Homo sapiens: one gene and its partners. The protein of the gene in region 1 interacts with the protein of each later gene in a pairwise test. Each region holds a gene or a part of one and is shown in the gene's direction. Other genes may lie near its edges.

Region 1 (7,866 bases):
CAGCACTTCGGGAGGCCGAAGCTGGTGGATCACGTGAGGTCAGGAGATCGAGACCAGCCTGACCAACATGGTGAAACCCCATCTCTCTAAAAACACAAAAATTAGCCAGGCATGGTGGCAGCCACCTATAATCCCAGCTACTTGGGAGACTGAGGCAGGAGAATCACTTGAACCTGGGAGGCGGAGGTTGCAGTGAGCCAAGATCACACCATTGCACTCCAGCCTGGGGAACAAGAACAAGACTTCGTCTCAAAAAAAAAAAAAAAAAAGAAACTTCCTAAAAGAGACACTCAAATACAGTCCCTTTTTCTCATTTATGCCATGAACTAGTGTCCAAGTCCCCTCCTTGGCAAGTCCCCTCATTGTTCCCCAACCCTCTGGATCTCTCAATTCCACAACTACAAGGATAATTCGTGGCAGAGGACTTCTACCTCTAGGACACTATTTCAGCTTTATGGACGTGTTTGAGCTGAATGGTCAGTGCTTAGTGTCATTAAATATTTCACATACAAATGCTGATTTCCTCTGTGTGTGTACACACTGGGCCATATGTAAAATATACTTATTCCTTTTTTTATTTTTTGAGACGGAGTCTTGTTCTGTCGCCCAGGCTGGAGTGCAGTGGCATGATCTCGGCTCACTATAGCACCCGGCTCACTATAGCACCCGGCTCACTGCAGCCCCTGACTCCCAGGTTCAAGGGATTCTCCTGCCTCAGCCTCCCGAGGCACTTGCCACCACGGCTGGCTAATTTTTGTATTTTTAGTAGAGATGGGACTTCACTATGTTGGCCAGGCTGGTCTTTAACTCCTGACCTCAAGTGATTCACCCAGGCTAGTCTTGAACTCCTGAACTCAAGCGATTTGCCCACCTTGGGCTCCCAAAGTGCCGGGATTACAGGCATAAGCCACCGCGCCTGGCCCAGGGTCATAAATTTTTAAAAAGTACACACTGGGCCAGCCATGATGTAAAATATATTTATTTCTGTGGGTCATAATTTTTTTAAAAGTTTGAAAGCCACTGTTTTCTAGGCAATAATGAGCATAGGAAGGAATGTTTTTAGACTGCTTCCTCAGGGAAAAGACCACCCTCGCAGGCCTGAGGCCGAGTATTTTGTTGAATTTATATTTACAATGTTGAAGAAAAAAATAATTCAGGATACTTGTTAAAGACAGCAATAAAGACTTTAGTCAAGGAGAGACTATCCAATGGGGTCTTGCAGTGGGAGAGAGAGATTGGGCTCAACTATGAATACAAAGACAACTAGAGATCTGAAGCCAAGGAGCAGGATGGAGTCAGTGGATGGAAAATTACTAAGGGGAAATTTCCAGAATAAAGGAGGATTCTGGCTAAACCAATTTAATGGGGTTATTGCTGAAGGCAGGCCAGGGTGCTAAGATATCGAGAACAGGGGATAAGGAATTTGATGAGATACCAAGTATGGTCAAATATTAAGGGTGAGGCGTTTTTACCCAACCAACCCAGCAGGATTCTTGCTAAAACTGGACTAAATGAACAAAGCCACTAAACTAAGGACAGAGTTCCAGGTCAGGACCTAGTCAGAAAGAGGACTTAGAATAACCAGATTAAAGTTTGGTCAAAGGAGAGAGTCTTTGTCAATATTACCTCCCTAGCAAAACTCGCTTTCCACCGGGTATCACACTGAGGACTTTTGGTTGTTATCTTCAAATAGAAGAGAGCAGAGGAAGGAAAAGCAAGCTCTTTCCTGATTCTTCTAAGGTCACCAATCTCATTCATGAGGACTCCAAATTTAATCCTAATTATCTCCCAGAGACCCTACCTTCTAATTTCTAATACCATCACACTAAGGGGTAGAATTTTTCCTTCCTTCCTTCCTCCCTCCCTTTCCCCTCTCTCCCTTTTTTTTTCTTTCTTTTTTTTTTTTTTTTTTTTGACACAGTCCCACTCTGTTGCCCAGGTTGGAGTGCACTGGTGCCATCTTGGCCCAATGCAACCTCCGCCTTCTGGGCTCAAGTGATCCTCCCGCCTCAGCCTCACAAGAAGCTGGGACTACAGGACAGCGCCACCACGTCGGCTAATTTTTGTAGAGCCTGGGTTTCACCATGTTGCCTAAACTGGTCTGGAACTGCTGGGCTCAAGTGATCCGCCCGCCTTGGCCTCCCAAAGAGCTGGGATAACAGGAGTGAGCCGCGCCCCGTGTAGAATTTCAACACATGAATGGGGAAGGGGGCAGAGAACACAAACATTCAGTCCATAACAGCCAGGGACTAGAAGACTTTGGTCCACCATAAAAAGCAGGACTTATGTTTCATGGATACCAGTATTCCCACTTATCTATAGGGTGGAGAATATTTAGGACTTTGCAGATTCATACTGATGGTAAGCATTATTATTATTATTATATATTTTTTGAGACGGAGTCTTGCACTGTCGCCCGGGGTTGGAGTGCAATGGCGTGATCTCAGCTCACTGCAACCTCCACCTCCCGGGTTCACGCGATTCTCCTGCCTCAGCCTCGCGAGTAGCTGGGATTACAGGCGCACACCACCACACCTGGCTAATTTTTTGTATTTTTAGTAGAGACAAGGTTTCACTATGTTGGCCAGACTGGTCGCAAACTCCTGACCCCCTGATCCACCCGCCTCGGCCTCCCGAAGCATTATTTTTAATCTATGGTTCAGAGTCAGTGACATTGCCTCTCTGAAGCAGGTTTTCCAAACGAAAACGACAATGAAAGCCCCAATTCATAAGACTGCAAAATGTCTTCATTTATCTTGGTGAACTGGGAGGAGGAGGGGACCTGAGGATAGAGACAGTATATACGTAAATGTAAGAAGCACTTTTGAGCTTTCTATATTGTACACGATGGGGAAAAAGCACGTTGTTCAGGGATCTCTGGCTCATTGTATAAGATGGGGTAGACAATACCATGTAATTCTTTATTCGAATTGCTTTGTCTTGCTGCATGGCTTTGTCATCAGCTGATTTTGCAATTACCTTAACAAGCAAAGGAAATGCCAGTCAAGTTCAGCATCTGGGACCTCCTCACCATTGCAACATGTCAGGCCTCAGGCAGGAGACAAAAATGCCCAAGGCTGAGTGTGAAGCCCAGGTAAGAAGTGAGACAATGGCTTTGAGCCTGGGGTGTAAGCATGCCTTGTTCCCAAGGCCAGTATTTACATGTGGGGTCACTTCCACCTTTGGTACAGTTAATCAGGCGCTGATTACGTTCCATGGCATCATCCTGACTTCAGGACTTTGTAGGAAAGCTGAGGCAGGACACTGCTCAAGTGCATTTGACAGTAAGATGCTTTGTGCAGCCAGATGTTAATTCCACTTGCCCTTACGCTTGCTTACGCTACACCGTAAGCGGGGCTGACCCTTATGGAGCTGGGCTTTTCTTCGCCCGGAGACTCTTGTCAGATAAGGCTTAGAACTCCGCCAACCACTTAGGCTTTTAGGCAAAACGCGATGCAACCCTTCTTAGAAGGCGGGTCACTGCTCTGCACCAGCTGCCAGCCAGAGAGACAACAAATAAAAATGGAAGATCCTTCTCCGTGAGAAAACAGGCCTCGGACTCAAAGCAGGGGGCCTGAGGGGAAGGTGAGCAAAGAAAGGCAAGGCGAGGGCGCTGCTTCAAGAAGCCGGGTTCATTCAAACCCCGAGGACAGCAAACCCCGCCTCCCCACGCCGCCGCCCGCTCAATCGCCGAGCGCTCCGGGTGTGAGCTCGCCCCGCGGGGAGCGGCTTGGAGCCGAGGAGGCGGCGGCAGAGGTGGTTTGGGCAGCCCCGCGCGGCGGATAGGCCCAGGCAAACAACACCCATTCCCCCTCCTCCTCGCTCAGTTCAACTCCCACTCGGCCCCGGCCACGCCCTGCCGCCACCGCCCCCTCGGGCAGCTTTCCGCTCGGCAGCCAGGCCTCGGTCGGGGGCGGGAGAGAGGCGGTGCCTCGAAGAAGGCACCGCGACCGCCGGAAACTACGAGTACCGACAGCCTTCGCGGTAGTGCCCCACCCCCTTTCTCCCACCACTCAGCGCGCGTCACCCTGGGCTCAGCCAATGGAGACAGAGCCAGGGAAAAAGGGCGCCCGGGTCCGGATGCGCCTCAGGAAAGCCATGCTCCCTGCGCGGGGGCAGCGGGCAGTTCACCCAGCGCGCCGACCTGTTGGTGGTCCGCGCGCGCCCACGTCCGCCGCTCTCGCTTGCCTGGATCAAGGGCCCTACTTTTTTCTTTAGTGGCAATTGGAGGGATTGCTGGAGGGGGTTTTTGAGTGGAGGGCGCTGGGAAATGAGTAGGGGGCGGGATATCCTGAGACAACAAGTTTGGCTGTATGGAGGGCCTACCGGCAGCGCTCCTGAGCTAGAACGCCGAGAGAAAGAGCGCCAGAGGAGCCAGGGAGGAGGAGAAGAGCTGCTAAAGGAATAACCCCGAGAAAGGGGGTGGAGAGGAGGCGGCCCCAGCGCCCCGGCCCCCGGCAGGTCGGCGGCCAATCCGCTGGGGGAAGGGGTGGAGAGTCGGAGGCTCCGGCGGAGAGAGGCCGAGGGGGGTGGGGAGTCGGCCAGGCTCGCACCGCCCTGGCCCCGCCCCCGACCCGCGCCGCCGCCCGCGCCGCGCGCCGCCGCTGTCAATCAAGGGCGAGTCAGCCGGGCTCGGGCGGAGAGAGGAGCTGCTACGCCACAGCCCAGCGGCGGCCATTCGCGGAAAAAGAGGCAGAGCCTGTGCCAGCTACAGCCTCCTCCGAGCCACCGCGGGCGGGCGGGACCGGCCTCTCCTCCCGCCTCGCCCCCACCCCCACCCACCTCTATCCCAGTGTCTCCGTCTGAGGGTTTGTCCTGTTAATGCGGGATGAGCGGTACGTATTCTCCACCCCCCTCAGTCTCCTTCGCCGCCTCCCTCTCTCCCTCCCTCCCCAGACCCTGCTCGGTTCTCCCCCCTCCCCCGGGGCCGCTGAGATGCTTTAAGGGGAGGAGGAGAGGGCGGGAGGGAATCGGGGAGGGAAGGAGGGTTGTGTTTTGTCTTAATGTCTGAGAGAGAACAACCTCCTTCTGGGTGTTGCTCTGGAGCCGATGGGTCGGGTTTCAAACCACGTTTTGTGATATCCCCCTCCTCCCTTCCCTCCTTCTCCCCCACCCCCTGCCGGTGTGCGTGGATCGCGGGTTTATGGAGATTAATGTTCGGGGGGAGGGGGGAGAAGAGGAGAGGAAGAAGACGAATAATAATAATCCTAATAACCTGTTGTCGTGTGTGTGTGGTGGGGGGGTTTGTTGCAGATCAGAAGAAGGAGGAGGAGGAGGAGGCGGCAGCGGCAGCGGCGATGGCTACAGAAGGAGGGAAAACCTCTGAGCCAGAGAATAACAATAAAAAACCCAAAACCTCAGGCTCCCAGGTAAAAGCAAACAAATTAAAAAAATTCATCACGACACATTAGGAGAGAGAGGGAGTTATGCCCTTTGAATGTCCAGAAGTAACAGAATAAAATGTTTATCCACTCAAAGCATCTTTCTGAGAGTGTGGAACTTAAATTGTAAATTCATCAAGTTTTCACCTCTTTGAGGGTATAACGCTGTTTAAAATTACATCAGGAATTCAGACTATAAGAAAACGGTGTGTGTGTTCCCAAGGGCATTTTGAGTTTAGGAACATAACACTTTACAAAGTTGTAAAGAAATTTCCTTTTATTTAAACTTGATATTATAGGACTTGCTTCCTTATTCATATAGTTCTTATCTACTTTTGTTCGTATTTCTTTTTGATTTCTGCTGCTTCCTAAATTGTTATGTAGAGCTGTCAAAATAAGTAACCCCCTGGCAACTACTGGCCTCCACTAAATCCGCCCACTTTTTTTCCCCCCCCCCTCTCCTTTACCGTCCCATTTTGGGTAGGACTCTCAGCCCTCTCCTCTGGCTTTACTGGCAGCTACTTGCAGCAAAATAGGGACTCCTGGTGAAAATCAAGCAACTGGACAACAACAAATTATTATAGATCCAAGTCAAGGATTGGTGCAACTTCAAAATCAACCACAACAGCTAGAACTGGTAACAACGCAACTTGCTGGAAACGCTTGGCAACTTGTTGCCTCCACTCCTCCTGCTTCAAAAGAGAATAACGTTTCTCAACCAGCCTCTAGTTCGTCTAGTTCTTCCAGCAGTAATAACGGGAGTGCATCTCCTACAAAAACTAAATCAGGTAATTCTTCCACCCCTGGTCAATTTCAAGTCATACAAGTACAAAATCCAAGTGGTAGTGTACAGTACCAAGTAATTCCACAACTTCAGACAGTGGAAGGTCAACAAATTCAAATCAATCCAACTAGTAGTTCATCTCTACAGGATTTGCAGGGTCAAATTCAGCTCATTTCTGCAGGTAATAATCAAGCTATACTCACAGCTGCTAACAGGACAGCTTCTGGGAATATTCTTGCTCAAAACCTGGCAAATCAGACAGTTCCGGTCCAAATTAGACCTGGTGTTTCAATACCACTGCAGTTACAGACTCTTCCTGGTACTCAGGCTCAAGTTGTAACAACCCTACCAATTAACATTGGAGGAGTGACTCTAGCTTTGCCAGTGATAAACAACGTGGCTGCCGGAGGAGGGACTGGGCAGGTTGGCCAGCCTGCTGCTACTGCTGATAGTGGGACTTCCAATGGGAATCAATTAGTTTCCACACCCACCAACACCACTACTTCTGCCAGTACTATGCCAGAATCTCCCTCCTCCTCCACTACCTGCACAACCACTGCTTCAACGTCTTTGACAAGCAGTGACACATTAGTGAGCTCAGCAGATACTGGCCAGTATGCAAGCACATCAGCCAGTAGTTCTGAACGCACCATTGAAGAATCTCAAACACCTGCTGCTACTGAGTCTGAAGCCCAGAGCTCCAGTCAGCTTCAGCCTAATGGAATGCAGAATGCACAGGATCAATCAAATTCTCTTCAGCAGGTGCAAATTGTAGGCCAACCTATCTTACAGCAGATCCAGATCCAACAGCCTCAGCAACAGATCATTCAGGCTATTCCACCACAGTCGTTTCAACTCCAGTCAGGGCAGACGATTCAGACCATCCAGCAGCAGCCTTTACAGAATGTTCAACTTCAAGCAGTAAATCCGACTCAGGTGCTTATCAGGGCTCCAACTTTAACACCTTCAGGGCAAATCAGTTGGCAAACTGTACAGGTTCAGAATATTCAGAGTCTTTCAAATTTGCAAGTTCAGAATGCTGGGTTATCCCAACAATTAACCATCACCCCAGTGTCTTCAAGTGGTGGCACAACTCTTGCTCAGATTGCTCCTGTGGCTGTTGCTGGTGCCCCAATAACTTTGAATACTGCCCAGCTTGCATCAGTGCCTAACCTTCAGACAGTGAGCGTTGCCAACCTGGGTGCTGCAGGTGTTCAAGTGCAGGGAGTTCCCGTTACAATCACTAGTGTTGCAGGTAAGTTCTGACATCTTTTTAAGTACCTTTTAAATAGTTTTTCATAACAATTATTGCTTTTCTCTCCTAATTCTAAGGTTTGACGTAGACCTCTGAAGTAAACACACAATCATAAGGAACCAGAAATAGCAATATTATACTAACAAACATAGCTCTGTAGTAATCAATGTGACATGTTCACTTTTGTAGATTTTATAATAATGTGTTAAATTTGTTAGTTTTTTAAAAAGTATTGTTTTATGGGACAGAGCTTTCTGATTAGAATCATAATTGCCTTCTGTAATTTAGTGGTCTTATTTGAGTACATTCCAGCTCTTCAGAAAGAACCCTAGTCGAAATGATATTTATCTCTTCTTTGAGGGAAAGTAGTTTTAAACTGAATTGGTATATATAATTGTGAGTCTGTTGAACTTTTAATTCTGTGGTGTAATAAGGCTAACTTTTTT
Region 2 (7,777 bases), on another chromosome or scaffold:
AATGCAAATCAAAATCACAATGAAATATCATCTCATATCTATTAGGATGGCCACTATAACAAAACAAAGCAGAAAATAACAAGCGTTGGCAAGCATGTGGAGAAATTTGAATCTTTGTGTATTGTAGATGGGAATGTAAAATGGTGTAGCTGCTATGGATAACAGTATAGGGGTTCCTAAAAAAATTAAAAATAGAGCTAACGTATCATCCAGCAATTCTAATTCAATGTATTTATCCAAAACTATTAAAATCGGGAACTCAAAGAGATGTTTGTACTCTCATGTTCATTGCAGCATTATTCACAGGAGCCAATCTAAATGTCTATTAACAGATTAATGGATAAGGAAAATGTATATGCTTACAATGAAATATTATTCAGCCATTAAAAGAAGGAAATCCTGTCATATGCTATCATATGGGTAAATCTGGAGGCCATTATGCTATGTAAAATAAACTAGTCATGGAAGGACAAATGACTACATGATTTACTTATACGAAGTATCTCAAAAAATCAAACTCGTCAAAGCAGAAAGTAGTATAGTGGGTGCCAGGGGCAAGGGGAAGGAGAAATGGTGAGCTGCTGTTCAATGGGTATAAAGATTCAGTCACGTAAGATGAAAAGGTTCTAGAGATGTGCTGTAGAACAATGTTCTTACAATTAACATGCTGTACTGTGCACTTAATAATCTGTTAAGGGGGTAGGTCTCATGTTATGTGGGTTTTTTTCCCACAATAGGAAAAAGTCAATGTATCTTACAATAGCAAATCATGAAAATGCAAATAAAAAATTATCACCCATTAAATTAGTAAGGATTTTAAAATGCTGGTGGGAGTTTCCTGAGGCAGCCTCTCACATACTGCTAGTTACAGTATAAACTGGCAGTCACAACCTTCTGAAAAATGGTTTGGAAATATGCATGAAAGGGTCTTAAAAATATTTGTACCCTTTAATATAATAATTTTACCTATAGAAATATGTCTTCATGAAGTAATAACAAATGTAAACATGTTTATTATTTATAAGAGCAAAAATTAGAAACCACCTACATATTCCATAGGAGGGGAATGGTTAATAAATGTTGATACTTATAATGAAACAACAAAAATATTTTTGAAGTTTTAGTTACAAGAGAAAACTTCTGACAATACAATATTAAATTAAAAAGGCAGGATACACTTTAGAGAGGGTGATTACACATATGTCAAAAAATTAAAAATAAAAAATGAAGGAAATACACAAAAATGATAAATAGGGTTTTTTCTGGGTAATGAGATTATAGGTGATTTAAGACAATTTTTGAATCCTTTTTTTCGTATTTCTAAAACTTTTGACAAAGAGCTTATATTATTCTCAATCAGAAAACTACAAGAAGATAACAGCTTAAAAATGAAATGTAATCTAAAGTTGCATGAAAAAATATACTGTATCTTGCTCGGTTTGTCCAAACATATTCTTGAAAGTGTCTACTTGCTCTTTAGTCTTTCCAAACATAAACATGTAAGGTAGAATGTAGAATGACCAAAAATTAGATGCTTCATTCTAGAAATACTGAAAGGTATTTGACTGACTTTAGGTATGTTTAAAACAAACATACACTTTTTCACTAAATCTTTTGATTTTAACAAAACAGGAAGACACAATTGGGGAAAAGTCAAGATAAAGCCTTACATTATTTATTTGTATAGTAAGCATATGGCCTCTGGTAGCCCAAGAAATAGCACAGACTCCCTCTGGGATGATGTGGGCGGGTCATCCTCTTCAAGAGAGTGGTCTGGGGTGAGGGACATAAATGGAATGGCAAGCAGAGAGAGCAGGGAAGGGTCTGCCCTGGCAATCAAGTCAGCCAAGCCCACCCTGGCTCTTAGTGGGTTGGCAGATGGCACAGCCAGATTGTCCCACCAGCCTGGAGCAACTCACTAAAACAATTACATTCAAGAGAGGATAAATCCATGCTACAATCAGATTCTTAATATTAACTGGGGATGATGGGGTCATGTCCTAATTGGTTTAAGTTGTGAGCAAATAACTCTGATAAGAGATGCACAGAGAAAGTCACACGCTGGCTTCTTTAGGAACACAAGCCATCAACGCTCTGAGAAAATCAAGTTAACACCCCTCACCACTCTGCCATCCCCCCAGCCCTACCATTTGATACCATTTGAGAAGTGTTTTTACCTTTACTCATGTCTGTTTCCTTGAAATCAGAGAAAGCAACTGTGGGGACCTTGGGTACATAGAGTCTAGAAAAACAGACATAGTTTTGATGGGCTCATGCTGTGTTTCAAGAAAATTGAAAGTGTGAATGAGTTGCCAACAGTTAAAAATTGAGAGGTTTGGTGTAATCAGGATTTGAGGCTTTTAGAAAAATTACATCTAGCAAGAGTGAACTGTCATTGTCACATGGCAACAATCAGCTAGAGATGAGTGACAGATAAGCCCTGTAGACGGCACAGACCCTACCAATGTGCCACAGTCCTCACTCAGCCCATTTGCTCATTTGGATTTCCATGCCTGGTCCCTGTATGTATTCTTGACTGTGATCAATAGAATTGCTCTTACCAGTCAGAAGCTTTCAGGGCTCAGAGTGATTCACAGAGCTGATCTAGCCTTGAGCTGCCTAGGATAAAAAGCCTCCATTGACACAAAAACTCATTCACAACAACACTTCCTGTAAGTCAGTCTGATAAAGACAGACCTGATTAAGTACTATAAACATTCTCAAAGACATGTTGGGAGAGTAGAGAGACATGTCCCTCTGGAAGTCAGGGGTGCCACAGGCAGATAGCTAGACGGGGGGGCCTTGGAAGATTGGGATATCCTATGGGAAACTCTCAGCCTAGTGCTGGGAACTTAGTAGGAGGTTAATACATATTTCTTTCTATCTTCCTAAGAGCAGATGCGAAGCACAGCAAGGAGGAAATGCAGCCAGAACAGTATAATGCAATGCAACGCACACAGGCACAGCAGGCCAAGAGAGAAGGAAGGAGGTAATGGTAGCCTAGAGAGCAGAAGCAGCAACAGAGGAGGCCTAGAGAAGCTAGGGTGACAGAGGCAGGCATCATCGTAATCGTGACGGCGCAACTGCAGAATGATTCTGACAGATCTTTGATAGTCATACAATCTATGTGGTAAGTAGATGCACAGAGTACATGAAGACAACATTAATCCAGCAGAAATTTGAAAGAAATTTACATCAACACTGGGGAGGAGACATGATTTATCCCTTTAGTGAAGGAGTGCTGGTTAAAACTGTAACAGATTTTTTATTACATATAAAAAATATAGAGAATACGTAATATATGCAGAATAACTAATATTCATTTGAAATACAGAATTTCTATAGTTAGCTGAAATAAGTTAACTGTTTAATAAAGTTTATTTTTGGCTTACCAGTGGTGTGGCTTTAGTTACTTTGGAATAATTTATTTCTAAAACCTCAATTAAAAAAATCAGTTCCTAACTGAAGTAAAATTATCAGAAACATCATGTCACTACCGTAATAACCTGTCAGAGAATGTTACACAAGGGGTGCAGCACAGCGGAATGGAAGGTTACAGATGCAATTATTATTTTTTCTAGCCCTTTGCTTCGGGTCATAGCCAACCAGTCACTATACACAGGGTAGCTTCTGCAGTATTTATTTCTTTAAATATTTAACAGTGTTGAGAGGCAATGACTCGCAATAATATGTAGAGTTTCTAGCACATTATGAGTGCTTAATAAATGTTAGAACAATAAAATCCTGTATGATGAAAAACAGCAGTCAGTAAAACTATACAGTCTACGATATTTTAAAGCCATAGCAATAACTAGTTTAAAAAGAATAGAAAGCAAACAGTGCATTGATTAAATCACGGTCATAAAGGAACATTTACGTTCACTAAAAAGTCCACCCAGGTAATTTCCCCTTGTATGTATTAGGGGATGGAAAGAAGGCACAGGAAAAGTGGATAAAGTATGGATTAAAAAACAACTCTTCCCCCATCCCCCCGCCACCCCCCAAAAGCCAGGTGGAGCTCTATTGACCACAAGCCGGGGTAGCTACATCCAGTGCAACGGTGGGGTGCTCCAAGCGCCTTCGAAACGTCCTCTACGCCAGCACCAACTGGCAAAACCTTCTAATTTTCTAGACGCCTTTCTGCTTGGTTTTGGAAGGGGAGGCACCCAAGTGGGTGTGTGCGACACCTCTAGTTGTAAGCCGGGACACAGTGACGTCGAGAGAGCGCTATTCTACTCGGAGAGGAAGTTAATCCCATCGAACTCCAGCCAGGAAAACGTGGGCTTGGGAACCGCGGCCGCTCGTTTCCAGGATCTCCCGCGGGCCTTCGCGGCTGAAGAACCAGGCGGCGAGGGCTGAGGACCCCGCGCTCTAAGTTTGGGGAAGGAAGTGAGGAAAAAAAACAGAGCTGCTCCTTTAAGAACTTCCTTTCCCTTTTACTCTATGTTTACATAACACAGGGGCCGAGCCTCCGCCGGGCCGAGGGGGGCGGGGAGTGGGCGCGGACGGCCCCACGCGCCGGGGGAGGGGGCGCCCCGCGGGCCGGGGGCGGGCGCCTGGCTCTGCGTGGGGCGGGGCGGCTCCCACCTGCCCGCGCGCTGGCCCCCGCCTCCCCCGCGCGGCCCCAGCCTCTCGTGCGCCCGCTCCCTCCTCCTTCCCTCCCTCCCGCGGGGCTTCGGCGGCGGCGCTCAGCGCAGGCAGGTCCCCCTGCTGCCGGGTCCCATTTGTTGCCGGCTCTGACTCGGGGCGGCCGCGGCGCGCGGAGCTCCGGGGAGTCAGGCGGAGCAGCCGCGCAGCCACGACGGAGCAGCAGCGGGACTGGCCGCCCCGCGCCCCCTTCGCCGCCGTGCCCTTCCCCGGCGCGCTCACCCCGTTCTCGGGATGGGATTGTAGCGGCGGCGCGGACTCGGCGGGGATCGCGGCGGAGGCGGCGGCGTCGGCGGCGGCGTCGGCGGCCGAGCGGGGCTCCATGTTTTCCCCTGGCCAGGAGGAACACTGCGCCCCCAATAAGGAGCCAGTGAAATACGGGGAGCTGGTGGTGCTCGGGTGAGTCCTGGGGTCCCTGGTCCCGGGCAGCGGCGCGGGCGGGGAGCGCCCGCATCCTGGAGCGGGGCTGGCGGGGTGGCTCGGTGCTCTTTGGGGACCGCCGGGGCGCTCGGGGCGGCAGGAGAGGCTCTCAGGGCCCGGACGGCGGCGCGGGGGCGGGATGCGCCCCATCGGCGCGCGCTCGGGGTGCTGCGGCGGACGCCGGGCTGCGCTGTCCGCGCGGAGGACGCGGCGGAGGAAGTGGCCAGAACTCGGGCGACCCAGCGGGGGCAGCGCCGGGCACCGGGTCCGCGGCCGTATCGTGGGGGCGGGGGCAGGGGCTCCACTTCCCGCGCGCCGCGTCCGGGCCGGGGAGGGCGGGCAGGGACTCCATGTGAGGCGCCGCGGTCGCGGGCGCTTCGCGGGGTCGCTTCCCGAAGCTGAGAGGCCGGCCGGCGCGGAGCCCCGTCTTCCCACCTCCCTCGCGGACCGTGGTACCCGCGCCCCCGAACTCCGAGCGCGGCGCCGTGAGCTTGGGCCGCCGCGGGCTGTGGGATCCCCGGCTGCGCTTTGCAAATTGTTCCGATGACCGCCGCGGGCCGCCGCAGCCCGAGAGCAGTGAACTGTGTGTGACCCGGGCCGGCCGGCCCTCCGCTTCTCCCCGCTTGGAGTGCTCTGGAGGGGAGGGACAGGATGCGGCTGCTCGGGGCCTGGCACCGGGGCGCGGGCCGTATCCCCCCGGTCCCGGCCTCGCTGATGCCCTCCCGGCTGCGGGGAGCTCGCCAGCCTCGCCCGCCTCGGCTCCCTCTCTGCTGGTGAAAGCCGCATCTTGAAGATAGTAATTATGTACAATCGTTAAACGGCAGCAATTAGAGACTTCATCTACTTCCTGAGTTTCCTTGTGACATTTCTATTGTTTACCCTTAATAAGCCAGGAGAGAGGCTTTGCGGGCTTAAAACTGGATATAGTGGGCAGTGAAAGGGGAGGGGGAAGGGGGAAGTGCAGGAAACTGGGGGGAAGGAACAACTTGGGTTTAGTGTTGAAGAAAGGATTATTTTTTCCTTTGGATGTGTCGCTCTGGGAACCCGCGCTTTTGTCCTTCTGCGTTGAAAGACCTGTATTCAGAACATCCTCGGCGCTGATAGGTAGGCTTAGCACACATATGAGGAGTCATGGCTGTGGGAAGACTCAGGGAACTTTGCAAAACGTGTTTTGATAAGTGAGTGCCTTGAAGTAAGTGCTGACTTAAAAATAATTTAAAGAGAGGAGTTTTTGAGGGAAGCTTCCAGACACCGCACAACTCAAAGCTTCCCAGTCTTCCTGACTTTGTTGCTAGTGCATTAAGTGGGGGTGGTATTGGAAATCTCATTACCTATTTTGAAGCTGTTTGCAGATAAGTGTTTTTCTCACCTACATCTTAATTGCACTTCAAAGACAAATATCAGGGTTCACAGGAAGGCGGGAGGAATGACAGGAGAAAAGCCGCAGTTTAGTCTGTCTTATGTAACTTCAGCCCAACCTAATCTTGTGGAGTTTGGTTTTGTTTGTGTGGCTGGCTTCAGTGTGTTTAACACTGTGAACTTGACGCGGAAGATTAACGTATGCCAGAACTTTATTTCATTATTTCCTTTTGAGGAAATCATTGTTGAGATGTTTCAGAAAAGCAGCGAGTGGGCCTGGAGAGGTTTTGTGTTCATAGCTGGAAGTGCAGGGCATTCCGAAGCCACGGAAAGGATTGAAACCCTGGATTGTCCTAGTATCATAGTCTCACTCCACAGGAGCCCGGGATATAACGTTGCAGTTGCATATGGTCTGCCCTTTGCTAATGCTTTTCCAGGAGACCAAAGTATGACATAGTTGGCACTTAGGGGGCGAGACACTCAACCGTCGTTTGTGTACCTACTCTGTGCCTGTGCTGTTTAGGCATTGCTGATGCAGTGAGAACAGGGAACTTTCCTTTTAGAGTGGAGTGACAGGCATAAACAGAAAGAAACATGCAAATAGAGGAGTAATAAGTGACAATTTCAGGTGCAGCCAAGTTCTGAAGAGGAGTTGATAAACTTGGAGAGTGACTGCTTAGGTGGGTATTGGTTTCTTCGGCTGGAAGGTGAGGGAAGTTCTCTCTGAGGAGGTGAAATGTGAGTAGAGGATGCTAGTCTGGTTTTTGAATACTTGAATTGTGGTATTTTTCTTTTTTCGAGGGTAGGTTTCTGACTGTTTACCAATGTTGAACACATTGAAGAGTGCAGGTGAAAGAGTGACTAGGTAGGAAGATTTTTAGAGAGAACCTTATTCATATTCCACCCTTAGGATTTGAGACAGTGTACTTCATCTTAAAACAACAATAACATTCACATAGAATTAATATCATCTTTATGATATTATCTTTATGTCCTCTGGGGTATAAATATTGGAAAACAGAAAATTTCAAGTAGATTTTCTGAATAATGAGATGATTCCTGAGATCTAAAAATGCCTAATATTTGGTATTGATAGAAGCTTTGCTTGTCAAATTCAGTGCTTTTTTTTTTTTTAATGGTTATGTGACTGTCCTTTTTGCTCACTTTCGAATGTCATAGTGAAACATTACTAGGAAATCCTGGAGAGCAGAATGAAGAGCTGATAGATGTCTATATCCATATCTAAATACTTCTATATCTTTTTGTGTGTTACACAGTATTATTAAGAGATTCCACATAGCTAGGATTTTAGTGAGCTCATCACTTTCTGGGCTGATTAGTGGAATTTAAT
Region 3 (7,213 bases), on another chromosome or scaffold:
GACTACAAAATAGTTCTTTTGCTACAATTGTTAACTTGCATGGAATTCAAGAGATTCCATTTTCAAGAGAATTGCCATGATGTTCTTCAAATAAGGTACCAGGATGGAGTGTGAAATATCAAACTCCTTTTATGCCCAAGGCCAAACAGAATGTAAGAGTTTCAAATATTAATTGGCCTCTGAGTGCTAAATTAAAATGTCAACACAACAAAAACATTTTGTGAAGACAAGTAGGGTAGTGTTACTTGTGCCAAATGTTGGTATCCCCTGTCTTGGTTGCAAAGCATTTTGAATAAAACAGCTGACCTTCTATGCTTGATGGTAGAAACACAACTGTGGGAAATATAACTTAGCTGCTACTGGGATTTTTTTTTTTTTCGATTTTTCATCTTTGAGCTTTGTGATAAATAAAAATAATAGCCTTACAAATTTAATAGAATGGCCGTTAATTAGGATGGCTTAATTAGAATGGCTTCTCTTAATATTTATTATCTAGGTGTTTTCAGTAACACCATCCAGAATTTCACTGAGTAAATCAAAACTTCCCCTTCCCCCTAGATATGTGGTTAACAGGCACTTGGATCTGTTGTTCACTGTAATTAATGGGATTCACTCCTTGTGGAACCTTGCTAGAAGAGGATAACTAGTTCTGATCAAAGAAACTTCATTTGTTAGAAGTTCTAGAGAGTGAGATTTAGCAGAGCTATCAAGGGTTATGATTAATCTACACTAGGCCCTTAGCTCCTTCAAAGGAAAGGAACAGAAAGCAGGCTATAGGGATACCACCTGCTCTTCTTACAAATCCAGCTGTTAGTCTGCAGCTCCGGTGACTACAGCTATGCTTATGATGCAGAAAGAAAGAACAGCTACTCTGCTTTATTTCCTGCCATTCCCTACACAACTCTACCAGACGAGTTATTTTCTAATGAAAGTTCAACATCCTAACAATATTTTGTGCAACTCATGTATTATTTGTAGTTAGAAAAGTTATTCCGCTCTGCGGATGCCTTGATGTCTCTTACCAGTGGGATTTTTTTTTTAAAAGGTTGTGAAAGTTGTGATGGGGGTGAAGCCTTCATCATAAGATATCAGAGGAAACTGGAGGAGGTTTAGCTGTTTTGGAGAAGGAAAATGTACAAAAGTGCAGATTATAGCTTGACATTTCTTATCCTATAATGCATGCACATTTGGTGTTTTGTATCCTTCTACATGCAAGTTTAAAACTTTATGCCTAGGAGAGCAAACATAATGCAGCAGAAGGGTCTCTGGACTGTAAGAAGGCCATTTGGCTGGAGTCTATAGCGTAACTGTCTTTCAGCTTTGAGCAAGTCTCTGAACCTCTCTTGGGCCTCGGTAACATAATTTGTAAAATGAGGGAATTTGGAATTGATGATGTCTGCAGTACTTTATAGTGCTTAAAATGAGTTATTTGATAAATATGAGGCATTGGATAGTTGGTCCAGCTTCTTGCTAAAGCTGGGTGTTTTAATACCTAGGAAATAAGAAGACACTCAAGGTGAATGTCCATTCATTCAAAAGATTTCAATCAAACTGTAAAGCCCATGGAATCCAGCTGGATTCCTTATTTATGATGGATTTATACCTTTAAAATATATAAATGTTTCTATGTTTAGCATAGTATACATATAACATGTATATATTTACTTATATATGTTTGTATAATTGTATATATATTTAGATCTTGCCTTCTATTGTTTTTTCTTTCCTTTATAAAACAAATAATTGCATGTTTATGGTAATAAATGGTATAATCATATACTTTAGGTTTACATAAAAGCATATAGTATATAGTTAAGTAATCTGCCATTAATATAGGTGCTGACTGATGCTTGTGAGTATAAATGTTATATTTGAACACAATGAATACTTTGAAATATCAAGGACATAGAAGAAGTATTTGGATGCAAGCAAGAAATATAGGATTGGTGAGCTTTTTGGGTAGCTGTTCTGTGTACTTAACTATAAACACCTCTACTGCTGAATAAGGTTAGTGTAACCCCATACCAGGTGCCCTCTCCTTCCACCATCAAGCACATATTAAGTGAAATTTTTAAACAGTTAAGCAAAACTCATTTTTTTACTTGTAGGGACTGTGCATAGATTAATTTGTTAAATAGCTTTCTTTTCAGATTGTTATTTACTCACATTTTCTTTCTAAAGGAACTGCTCTATGGGGAGAATGAAGATACTATAAAATTATTTAATGTTATTGAACTTCATATTTATAATGTCAATTTACCATGGTCAACATGAATTTATTATTATTGTCACTTGGCATGTGTAACTTTTTGAATGATTTAATAAGCACTTGATAAAGTTTGAGACTTTTTGTTTCCAAAATTGGGTTTGATTTCAGTATAGCCCTAAACAAGAAAAGCTAACACTCCTAGAATAAGGAAATATTAAATATTTAACTTGTTTGAGGTCTTTTTATTCTGTCTGGTAGTCTCAGCTCTCTTTTTTGCTTTTGTCTTCCTTTAGGTATACAAATGCTCTCAGTCCAGCCAGACACCAAGCCGAAAGGTTGTGCTGGCTGCAACCGAAAGATCAAGGACCGGTATCTTCTAAAGGCACTGGACAAATACTGGCATGAAGACTGCCTGAAGTGTGCCTGCTGTGACTGTCGCTTGGGAGAGGTGGGCTCCACCCTGTACACTAAAGCTAATCTTATCCTTTGTCGCAGAGACTATCTGAGGTAGGAATTATCCTTGCACACCAGTGATGACTGGATGCCTTTTAAAGTACTTTTGTAAGTGTATTTTTTGTTTGCTTGTTTCATTTCCTTACTGCCAGCTTATATTCCTGAAAGAAGTTACCTGTCAGCCTTCAAAGCGTTGCCCTGTGTGTGTTACTCAAATTAATGCTTAAGGAATAGCCAACAAACCACAATATTTAAAGTATTTCAATTTGGCTTGCCTGCACACTCAGGCAGTTGGTTATGGCGCTGCCTATGTTGAAACTGCCAGTTAATGTCAAGGATGTATTTGGTCGAAATCAGCATTCAGGTTGATTTACTTATTTTTTCTTTTTTTTCTTTTTTTTTTTTTTTTTTTTTTTTGGAGCTTAAGGGGGAATGGGGGTTGAGCATAACACAAAGAAATTGATCAGCCATTTGGCAAAATATCTTAACTATTTTTAAAAAGTTCAACTTGAAAAAAATGGACTGTGTAAAAGAGTTTAATTGTTGCCTCTAAGTTGGACCTGAATTTAGTCTTCTAAAGTTATTCAGCTGTCTTCTCTGTTTCAGGTGTGTCAGAGGAAGTCAGGTGCAAATCCTTGGTTAATATCTATTAGTGCATTTATTGTAGAGTTTTGAAAACTTTCCCCAAGTGTAGATACATCTTCCTCTCGCCCCACCTCATGACATTCTAAACGGGAATCTCAAAAATACAACTAAGCAATTGAACCGCCTCAGACTTGCCAGTAGTTTTATGGATAATAACAAAGTAAAGACCTCCATCATTATAGGAAAATGACAGCCACTCTCCAACCTGTAAACATCTGAATGCTTTCAGGACAAGGCAGGTGTTCTTGGTTATGGAGCTATGAAGCCTACTAAAGCTTGTTTTCCAGCATTAAGTACTCAACACAGAATTTCTGCTGAAGGAAAATTATTTTGCTTTTCAGGCAACTTTGTGACTTACTTCAGCTGCAAATTACTTATATTAATAAAGTAGGATCTATCAAATTAGAGAAATGATATATGGCATCATTGGGATTTTCATATTTAATACAATTTATCATTTTTCTGGTCTGACATTAAGCGATTTATTTGGAATTTTTTCCCTTATGACAAAATTTATCAATCAATGGTAACTCCTTTAGTACCTTGGTCATTTGATGAGGTGTTTTCTAGGGAATTTGGTCGTTCTTAGTATATAATTCAGCTATTTTCAGTCAGATCCAATCTTTAGATATAAAAATATATCATTTGATTAATGGTAGTTACAAGAGGGTGAAAGCGGTACTGTTTATCAGATTCTACTCCTTCTCGCTCTTAGGACGGCCTCATCTGACAGCCTCCTGACTAATTATGGCCACTTGTTACTACTTCTCTGTGTTCCAAGTGCGTAAAACACATGCAAGGTGCCAACAATGAGAAGTCACTCTCTCCAGCCAGGATTTCCCTCATTGTGTTGGCACAACGAATCAAAATTAATGTACAATGTTCATTTTTTTAGAACTCTCCGGTCTTTGAACTTTCCTCTTTGAAATAAAAATTTCTCTTCTGCCCATTGTGAATTAGAGCCTCATTTCCACATAAAGCATTTGTATTTGCTTTTAGTGATTTAATACTGCTTTTTAGTTTTGCTTTATCTGTACTAACCAATAGTCATAGCTTTTTGACTCCTTTTGACTTTTACATTTGTTTGTAATTTCAGTATCTCAAGTGGATTTATGTTACCATTTCAAATAAGGAGTTTATATAGCCCGGGCAATGTTAAGGTGTTTTAATAAACCAAAGGACAAAAATTAAGTAAACTTGAAAGAATGTCAACTGAAATATCTGGGGTTTTTGAAAACAAAAATAAAAATTTGCCAAGGAAATACCTATATTGTGAGTATAACATGCTTCTTAGCTGTCAACATAGCATCGAGCAAAGACAGTAATCTTAGATTTGTTTTGTTTTCTTTTTCCTTGTGGTAGTAAAAATATATTTGATAGTCTCAAGTGTTTTGCTAAAACGCATTTATCAAAAATAGTTTTCATATCAGAAGTTTTTGTATCTCTATAAGAGTGTATGTGGCTTTTTGTAGAATAACTTTCAGTTACCTCCTGATAGGCTCAAACTTTTAATGGTGGTTAACTTATTAAAAGTATATAATATTCTTTCAAATATAAACCCTGGTCCTGATTGCCAATATATTCATTTCTCAGAGTACGATTTCCGCTTAAATTGGTCATTACCACATTAATGGCCAGTTGTTATGTTAACAGCCTAACGGTTGTTAACATTTCAAACTAAGTTGTTAACAGCAATCTTGTCCCTTATTTAAACTGAAAGTTTGTTGTATATAATGTGACTTATTTGGCAACTTCATCAACACTTAAAATTGCAGAAGTGAAGTGGAGAATTGGTGTGTGTAAAACACTGTGTTACGTGTTATAGATTATGCCGCAGATGTGGTATTTAGTTTTATGTGGAAAGCATGTGTCTCAGTGAAATTGTGTAGATGTTCAACTGCATATGTCTCTGATTGGCAAATTAAAATAGTCTGATTCTGTATGGTAAATCAACAAATATAGTCAAGCAGATTTTATTTACAAATTAATTTCTTTGATTAGATACAAATAGTTGTTCAAAAATGTTTATTAAATGCTTACTGTGTGAGAGGTATGATTTCAGGCAATGGGTGAAATTAGCTAAAGGAAAAAGGAAGGTACACCTAAAGTTGCCACTATCTAATTGTTTATTTAATTACATAGAATCTGTAATATAATCAGTGAACAAGTAATATTCTGTGGTTATTTTCCTGAGCTTTAAAAGTAATTTTTCTCATTTTCCTCCAAATTCAGCATACTTCCATTTTGTATTTTATATAACCAATGTTTAATCACTTAAGTTCTATTTTAAAAGTTGTTTTATTTTTGGCCCTTTGATATTATGTAATTTCTCTGAGGCACCAAACTGAACATAAATAACTTACATATTTATATTTCATGTCTAAATTATTAAGAACATAAGTAAGAATAAGGAAAGTAATAAAATAGTAATTTGCCTGTCCACATATATTGTTGGTTACAAGTATTGTCCTGGGCCAGATAATTTTTTACATACAGTGAAAAGTAAAATATTTTTGCCAATTACATTTAGCTTCTTAATACACTTCTCCCTCCATAAACAGAAAGAAAGAAACACTCCTAATTATGAGCAATGAGACTTAAAGATCTGTGTTTTACTTGTGTTACTTTGAGTAGTGATAATGATGATGTGATTTATAAGTTCTTTGAATGATGATTTGAGATATTAAATAATATGAAAATATAATAATTTAGACTGTAAGATATTTTCTTAAGGGTTATAGAAACTATTATTATGGAAAATTTGATGTCTTTCCATTTTTTTTCTCCTTTATGGCACTAGTAGCTATATTTAAGAGAAAAAGAAAGAAAAATCTTCCATAGTTTGTACACTAAGTATCAAATCTTAACAGTGGAATTTTTCACTTTCCAGAACTGGACTGGCATATCATTCATTTAGCTGTGGAACATAAAATGTACATATCTGATGAGACAGAATTTGCCCATTTGTGGGATTGCTTTCCTCCTTTGGAAACTCATTAGCTAAAGAAAGAGAAGGACTGACTTTTTAAAACTTCCTCTAACATGTTTCTGACTGAAATTATGAAATCTACCCAGTCAATATTTATATGCCAGGCAGACCAAGAAATGTATCTGTTAAAAATCTATCCAATGCATTTATAATTATTTTTATTTTTTTGAAGAGTAACTTATGACAAATTAGATATAGAAACATCTTTGTACTTTAAGTTGGAGCTTAAAATTGATATTGTCTAAAGTAGATTAAAAATGACTGTGTAAAAATAGCAAAGTTGTAGTGATAATGTTTAAGGTACTCATCACTGCGATCTATCCGCCTTATTTCAGTTTGAAAAAATATGAATAAAGTAGCCAGCCAGTGCATAATCAGAGTCTTAGAATTAGGAATTCTACATGCTTTTATTTAATGTTTTGCAGCAAGCATTAAATAGAACTAGGAGAAATACCAAAATACTTTCTTTTTCAACTTGAAGGCAATAAAGGATGTCAGAATGTAACTGGAACTCAACTTCTGGGCAATTTTTTTGTTGTTCTTTCTTTGAACCTGCAACTTTTTGTGACGTACTTTAAGCATTAAGTCTATATAGGCTGTATGTATCTTGTATCTCTATGAATGATATCTTGCCAGAGTTTATTCAAAGCTGTTTGCTGTGGTATGTGCCATGGAAGCTGCTTATAGCTTTTCCTATATAAGAAGCTGTAAAATGTCTTATATAAAATTTAATGCAATTTGCTATTTTTATACGTGAGGATGATTTGTTTAAAATGAAACTACTGGGAAAGAGTGATGCTTCATGCTTCACCATAGTTGCTAATTAACTAAAATGATTTGAAGCTTGCTATGCTGACTACAAATTTTATAGGCTTTAATATAATAATATAATAACTCTAAAAGAGAAAATAAAAATA
Region 4 (7,213 bases), on another chromosome or scaffold:
TAGTGTAGCTAGGCAATTTCTAGCATATTGCAAGTATCAACATTCTGTTAATGTGACTGGGCACAGTGGCTTACACCTATAATCCCAGCATTTTGGGAGGCTGAGGCAGGCGGATCATTTGAGGTCAGGAGTTCAAAACCAGCCTGGCCAACCTGGTGAAATCCCTTCTCTACAAAAAAATACAAAAAAAAATTAGCCCAGCATGATGGTGGGTGCCTGTAATCCCAGCTACTTGGAAGGCTGAGGCAGGAGAATCGCTTGAACTTGGGAGGCGGAAGTTGCAGTGAGCCAAGGTCATACCACTACACTCCAGCCTGGGTGACAGAGCAAGACTCTCTCTCAAAAAAAAAAAAAAAGAAACCCAACATTTTATTGTTACTTTAAAAAATGTATTCAGTGGAATCTAGGTACTATGGCAATTTAATACCTACCATTAGCTATTGGTAAAAAATACATGGAAAGCTTTTCTCTCCCCTCCCCCGCTCTTGCCCTCCCCTCTCTTGCCCCTCCCCGTCCCTTCCCCCGCTCGCTCTGTTGCCTGGAGCTGAGTGCCATGGTGCCATCTCAGCTCACTGTAACCACCTACTCCCAGGTTCAAGTGGTTCTCCTACTTCAGCCTCCCAAGTAGTTGGGACTACAGACGCGTGCCACCACACCTGGCTAATTTTTGTATTTTTAGTAGAGACGGGGTTCACCATGTTGGTCAGGCTGGTCTCGAACTCCTGACCTGAAGTGATCTTGCCCGCCTTGGCCTCCCAAAGTGCTGGGATTACAGGCGTGAGCCACCGCGCCTGGCCCGCTTCTCTTTAATAATCAATAATTTTATGTCTTTCATTTTTCTCCTTTCATTCATATCAACATTCTACTTCTCTCACAGAATTTCATCTTACTGCTTCCCTCCCCTGTACCCCCGAGATGGAGTCTCGCTCTGTTGCCCAGGCTGGAGTGTAGTGGTGCCATTTCGACTCATTACAACCTCCGCCTCCCAGGTTCAAGTGATTCTCCTGCCTCAGCCTCCTGAGTGCCTGGGATTACAGACCCCCACCACCACGCCTGTCTAATTTTTGTATTTTTAGTAGAGATGGGGTTTCACCATGTTGGCCAGGCTGGTCTTGAACTCGTGACCTCAGGTGATCTACCTGCCTTGGCCTCACAGAGTGCTGGGATTACAGGTGTGAGCCACCGTGTCCGGACTACATTTTTATGCTTAAAAGCTTTTTAAAATTAGTCATTATAATTCTCTGCAACAAAACTACGTGTATACATTGAAAATTAAAAAGTTTTTCTGCGCTCTTAATATTCTGAGAGTTTAAGAAAATTATGATTGAGACATCATTACAGTGAAAATTAATACACAGTACATCAAAGCAAATGTATCTCATTTTGATTAAACACAGCAAGTAAAATTTGTTGGAAATGTATCTTTAAGTGTGCGGATGAGACTTTTGCTCTATTAGTTTAATTACCCATGGACAAATATTGCCAGCCTGAAACAGCTTTTAATGTCCACTTTAAGAACTTCATTCATTTAAATAAGTTGGGGACTAGAAGGGGTTTTGTCATAGCAGCATCACGCCACTCTCAGGCCCTTTTGCATTCCATGTCGGAAGCCTCAGTTCCTAAGACTCACTGGTAGTGATCTCTGCAGAAGAGTGGAGATGCAGTGAGTCGAGGAAAAATGAAGCATTTCCTCTTCTCTGCTGTGGGAGTCGACAGTGGGGGACGGGGGTGCACACATGCCACACCAGGCAATGCCTAAGAAACTTCTCGTTCACCCCGTTCACACCTGTTGCCCCCACAGAGCCGATGATGAGCACCCCACCTCCTGCCAGCGAGCTCCCGCAGCCACAGCCGCAGCCGCAGGCCCTGCACTACGCGCTGGCCAACGCACAGCAGGTGCAGATCCACCAGATCGGAGAAGACGGACAGGTGCAAGTAGTACGTACCCTCTCCACCTCACACCTTGGGAAAGGGGGCTGCGGGGTGGGCCACGGCAGGGCCATGGCGGCTTCCACCGGTTCCGCTGTGTTTTGGGAGCACAGTGATAGCTTGGGAGGAGGCACAAGGTCCCCATTTAAAGTAGAGGTCATCGTGGCCATGAGCTCTTAACATTTCACAGGTGGGGGCGGCTGCTGCAGAGCCTAGGGATTGAAGCACATGGTGGGGTGGGGCATTCAGTCAGCTCACCTCAGTCCTGCCAGCAGGCAGGCGGGCAGTCAGCTCCAAGGGTCAGGCCGTGCGGTGGTCCCTGCCCCAGCTCGTGCTCCTGGGAAACATCGGAAATATTTCTCAGTTCAGAAGTGCAGGCGCTCTCTTACTGAGGGAAAGAGTAATTTCCTTCTAGGATCAGTGGCAAAAGCTTGAGGTCATTGTTCCCATGCAGCGTGTCCCTTGGAGTTACTCAGCACACCCAGGTTGGGCGGGCACTGTCCCAGCAGCAAGTCAATGTCCTGCCTTGCCCGTGCGGAGTTCTCTATTGGGGTTTTGTGACCCAAGCTGTGGTCAGCCTGATGCGCCTAGGGGCTTGCTCCCGGGTGAAGTCCCTCTACAAACACCTCCTGGATTCTGTGGCATGAGAGTAGGGCGTGGCTGAGAAGGAAGGAAGACTTTTCTGGAAGCTTTGCTGAGTGACTAGAAATTTTACATGCACCACTAGACCTCGCCTATGTTTTTAGTGGCACCAGCCCCCTTGGGCCCTCTGAAGACAGGTCATCGTGTGCCTCCGTGTCACCAGGGCTTTCTCCTGGAAACATGGTCCTCCACTATTGAGAGTGGGGCGTGGCTCTCATCTCAGTGTGGCTTCAGCATGCTGTCTGGAAGAGGGAAGGCTTCCGGAAAATTCTGGGGCTTTTAGAGGGGGCGTTACCCTTCCTCTTCCAAAGGAGATGAGACAGTTATGAATAGTGAATCTTATTTAATAAGCTTATTAATTTGTTTGACATTCACAACGGCAGTTCCTCTCATCTTGTTAGTAAGAAGTTCTTTGAAAGCGTTCCAGAGTAGATAACTTTGTCATAAGGCTTACATAGAACATTCTACAGGAGTTTATTTTAAGATCCATTTCGACTAAGAGAGAATTTCAAATAAGATAAGGAGTATTCGTTTCATTTACAGGTTTATAGGAATTATTTGTCTGCCCATATGTATAAACAGTGGATTCTTTGATTTTTTTTGAATCACATTTATTAGTGTTTACTGAAACTGTCTAAATAGTCATATGAGTGTTTCTTTGATTTGAAAAACGTTGCCTGCCCTGTTGTGAGTGTAGGCACGCCAACAGCTCCCCTGCTTCAGCCACACACTGCGTAGCCTCCCAGTATCCCCAGAGAGCTGAACGTATCATTTGAAAAGAGGTGTCATTGTGATTTTCTATTTCCCCTCTTTTCTGTGTGTCATGCACATTTTAAAATTTACTTGTTTAGTAACATTTAAAGATGTAAATATCTTTCCTGGGACCTATTGCTCCTTTGTGAAGTGCTGGAAAATGTTCTGTGTTACACAGCAGCCCCCCCTTACCCATGCTTCCACTTTCCCAGGCTTTAATTACCCATAGTCAACTGTGATCTGAAAATATTAGATGAGAAACTCCAGAAATAAACAATTTGTAAGTTTCAGATTACATACTCTTCTGAGTAGTAGCATGATGAAGTCTGGTCGTCCTGCTCTGTCCAGCCCGGGACGTGAGTCGTTCCTTTGTCCAGCATGTCCAAGCTGTGTGGCACATATGGGCGGGAAAAAGCATAGCATATATGGGGTTCAGCACCATCCACAGTTTCTGGCGTCCACGTGGTGGGGGTAGGGGGTGCTTCTTGAAACCCTCATGGATGAGGGGGACTACTGTGAACCAAAAGCTTAATTTAAAGAAGTGACCACAGACTATATTGCACTATTCAGGATTTAGTTATCTTTTTGAATTGTAAACAGATAATCAAGAACAAACATTCCGGAAGATGTTTCTTGTTTCCTTTGCTTTTGATTTTCTTCTGATGCTTCTTGGTGTCTTTTCTTGCTGCGGATCCCACAGGGACACCTCCACATCGCCCAGGTGCCGCAGGGGGAGCAAGTCCAGATCACGCAGGACAGCGAGGTGAGTCAGCTCTCGCTGCAGCACTGTCCCTGCAGGCACCGTGCCCACATGCTCCCGACCTTCATCGGTGTCACAGTGCGAGGGCAGCAGGGAGCCCCCAGGACAGGGAACGTGGGCAAGGGCTGCAGGACTCCGCTTCCAGGGTGCACATAGCGGGCCTGCAGTCTCTGTGGCCTCTCTGCCTCCCCCTCCTGTCCGTTGGTCTCCACAGCTTCTGGTCTGTCTTGGTAAAGATCTCCTGGGTAGATGTTTCTACTGCTGGCTGGAAGTGCCCTCTGAGTACCCTTCTCTCCCTGTCTGGCCCTGCCCTTCCTGCCAGGGGAGGCCCCCAGTGTGGCCGAGATGGGGTCTGCCCCTGCGTAGGTGACCTGACATACCCCCTCACCTGCCATGTGGCCCCAGCTTCCTAGTGGCCTCTACGGGATTAGTGCCGATTTCATGGGATGGTGGGGAATCCCACAAGGTGATGCTGCCAGTCCTGAGAGCTGCTCATAGCCCTTGACGCACCTGCTGGGTCTGTGATTGTCTCAGTTTCTGGAGCTCTACCCGGCCACGCACTCAGAAGTGCGGGCTCAGCTGCTGTTGGGGTCTGGAATGTGAAGGCGGCAGTGACAGTCTGAGTTCTTGGAAAGCCGAGGCCAGCCTGTTGCGATGCTCCATGTTTGCATGCCAGAGCAGGACTGTCTCCCGGGTGACCGTCCTTCGACTCTGGGCTGTTTCCTGCAGCACAGGCAGCAGCAGGCACAGGGCACTAAGCAGCACACACGTGTTGTACTCAGTGACCGTGGTGCGCTCTGGGGGATGAGGAACATGGCTGTTTCTAGGTCGTGACAATGGCACCAGCTTTGTGTTTGGTGCATAGTAGTGTGTCGCTGCAAAGATCTCAGGCTTCCCCACACACACCAGCAGCAGAGACTAGGAAGCCCGGGTGCTGAGGTCAAGGGGACTCATGGAGATGTTGGCGTGCGAGGCCTCCTGGGAGCTCATGCTGGGTGCAGGTGCTGTGGGGGAGCAGAGGAGAGAGAAGCCCTGCCATCGGGGACTCACAGCGGGCGCAGAGCCTCCTGCCCAAGTGCCCGTGAGCAAGACTGTGGACACATGCACGCCGTGGCACGTGGAGCACCAGGGACTCGGGCGTGTCTGCTGGCAGTGGCTTTAATTTGGACACCAGCAGTTCCCGGTGGGTTATCCTGAGAGGGGAGCACATGCGTAAGGGTTCTGAGGGCGGAATGAGGATGAGGTGAAAGGGGAGGAACGAATTCATGTGGGGGCCGTGAGCGACTGGGAATGAGTGGGCTCATCCACACAGCGACATGACCAGGTCACTAAGAAACGTGGTCAGATGGATGGATGGAAGGAAGCAGCAGGGCGGGGAGCAGGTAGGGGACGGTCCCAGGAGGCCAGAGTGTCCAGGAAGGAGCAGGGCCTTCCCTGTTCTGTGTCTGTGGGTGGGTCAGGGACCATCTCCTTGGAGATGTCAGGAGATGCGCCTGTCAGCTCAGCGAGGTCAGGTGCAGGAGTTGGGGGCCTGAGTGGCTGCGAGGTGCAGGATCCCAGCAGCACCTTCCAGTGCAGGAGCTGCCTTTGAGGGGCAGGGGAAGGTTTGCTTCTCAAGGCACAGACAGATGTGGGCTGGGAGGCTAAGCTCACTGCCAAAGAGCTCAGCCAGAGTTCTTGAATACCTGGAAGCCTATGAAGTTCGTCAGAATGCTTAATTTCCTTAGAGTCATTGAAAATGCAGGAAAATTGAAACAGCAGCAAAAGAAAAAAAACAACACACATTTGCTTTTTATAGTTTATGCTAAAAAAATCTTGACTACTCGAATTTCAATTTTTTATTATTAGTTTTATCCATCAGTTTTCAAAACTGAATCCATCTTGTATAGGTGATTGTCTTTCGTTTTCAATAGGAATTGAATGCAGTAAGTTAGAAATTGCTAATAATACTAACGATGGCTTTGTGATGAGTGACAGTATGCAGTCTCGTCACCATACATTCATACCGTGTTCATTTAAAATTATTTTGTTAAAACAGGATATCTGCAAATAAACATTTAGCAGGGTCTGACAGACAACACAGTTCCTTTTTACAACAAATGAAAATGAATTTCTAACTGGAGAGCTCTTAGTAGCTCTGTGGTTGAGTGAGTTGGTTCCTTGCGTGCAGCCCGTGACCTGGCGTGGTGATGCCGCACAGCTCAGCAAGGCGTCCCCCTTCGGGGAAGCTGGGCGACACACACATAGGACGTCTCTCTGCTACTTTCTGTACTTTTTGTGAGTCAGATTCTTTCAAAATAAAAAATGAAGTAAAAATGACATTTTCATTTGGGGTCAGGGTAGGGGAATGAGTACAATGCTTTTTGAGTTGTTTGTTCATCTTTAAAATAATAAATAGTACCTAGAAATGTCAATATTTTGTTTTGGGGCTTTTGTTGCTACTGGAGGTTGAATTTTTGCAGAACTGGGGTTTTCTTGTTATTCTCAAGTGGCCTGTGATGTGTCTTGGCGTGTTTGCCGTGTCTGAGGGTGTCTTGGTGTGTTTCTACTCATGACCGTCTCCTCCTCTCGTTCTTTGTAGGGCAACCTCCAGATCCATCACGTGGGGCAGGACGGTCAGGTGAGTGTCCCAGTCCCCATGCACATGCGGGCGTTGCGCTGCCGAGGGATGGGGTTCTCAGGGGAGGGGGTGGGACGGTCAGGTGAGTGCCCTGGTCCCCATGTACATGTGGGCATTGCGCTGCCGAGGGGTGGGGCTCTCACGGGAGGGGTGGGACGGTCATTGTGGGCATTGCGCTGCCGAGGGGTGGGGCTCTCATGGGAAGGGGGCGGATGGTCAGGTGAGTGCCACAGTCCCCCTCTCACATACAGGCCATGGTGCTGCCAAGGAATGGGGGCTCTCGCGGGAGGGAGCGAGGGTGCAAAGGCCTCTCAGTGTGAGCCCCAGAGCAGGACTGGCTTTCCTCACCATGACAATGCACAGGCCTGGAAGGGGGGAGGGCAGGGCTTGGGGGTTACATTTGCTGCTCCGTAGGATTTCAGCAGCTTTTGCGCTATGGCGGAAACGTGCCCTCCCACCCCCGCCACCCCACCCCCTTCAGATGGTTATTTTCTGCACACGCATGCGTA

The links.
Region 2: the proteins of SP4 (region 1) and PELI2 interact in binary tests that used the Homo sapiens proteins (3 or more experiments, as listed by UniProt).
Region 3: the proteins of SP4 (region 1) and LMO3 interact in binary tests that used the Homo sapiens proteins (3 or more experiments, as listed by UniProt).
Region 4: the proteins of SP4 (region 1) and BANP interact in binary tests that used the Homo sapiens proteins (3 or more experiments, as listed by UniProt).

Annotation. Positions count from the first base shown.
Region 1 is NC_000007.14:21,423,424-21,431,289, forward strand, and holds the start of SP4 (transcription factor Sp4), read left to right. Parts: upstream 1-4,659; 5' UTR 4,660-4,828; coding exon 4,829-4,835; intron 4,836-5,253; coding exon 5,254-5,369; exon of another isoform or gene 5,370-5,480; intron 5,481-5,865; coding exon 5,866-7,420; intron 7,421-7,497; coding exon of another isoform or gene 7,498-7,508; exon of another isoform or gene 7,509-7,866. UniProt on the Homo sapiens protein: Binds to GT and GC boxes promoters elements. Probable transcriptional activator.
Region 2 is NC_000014.9:56,113,692-56,121,468, forward strand, and holds the start of PELI2 (E3 ubiquitin-protein ligase pellino homolog 2), read left to right. Parts: upstream 1-4,719; 5' UTR 4,720-4,969; coding exon 4,970-5,046; intron 5,047-6,044; exon of another isoform or gene 6,045-6,171; intron 6,172-7,777. UniProt on the Homo sapiens protein: E3 ubiquitin ligase catalyzing the covalent attachment of ubiquitin moieties onto substrate proteins. Involved in the TLR and IL-1 signaling pathways via interaction with the complex containing IRAK kinases and TRAF6.
Region 3 is NC_000012.12:16,596,158-16,603,370, reverse strand, and holds part of LMO3 (LIM domain only protein 3), read left to right. Parts: intron 1-2,502; coding exon of another isoform or gene 2,503-2,510; coding exon 2,511-2,716; intron 2,717-4,403; coding exon of another isoform or gene 4,404-4,476; exon of another isoform or gene 4,477-4,579; intron 4,580-7,213.
Region 4 is NC_000016.10:88,031,308-88,038,520, forward strand, and holds part of BANP (protein BANP), read left to right. Parts: intron 1-1,801; coding exon 1,802-1,938; intron 1,939-4,015; coding exon 4,016-4,087; intron 4,088-6,665; coding exon 6,666-6,704; intron 6,705-7,213. UniProt on the Homo sapiens protein: Controls V(D)J recombination during T-cell development by repressing T-cell receptor (TCR) beta enhancer function. Binds to scaffold/matrix attachment region beta (S/MARbeta), an ATC-rich DNA sequence located upstream of the TCR beta enhancer.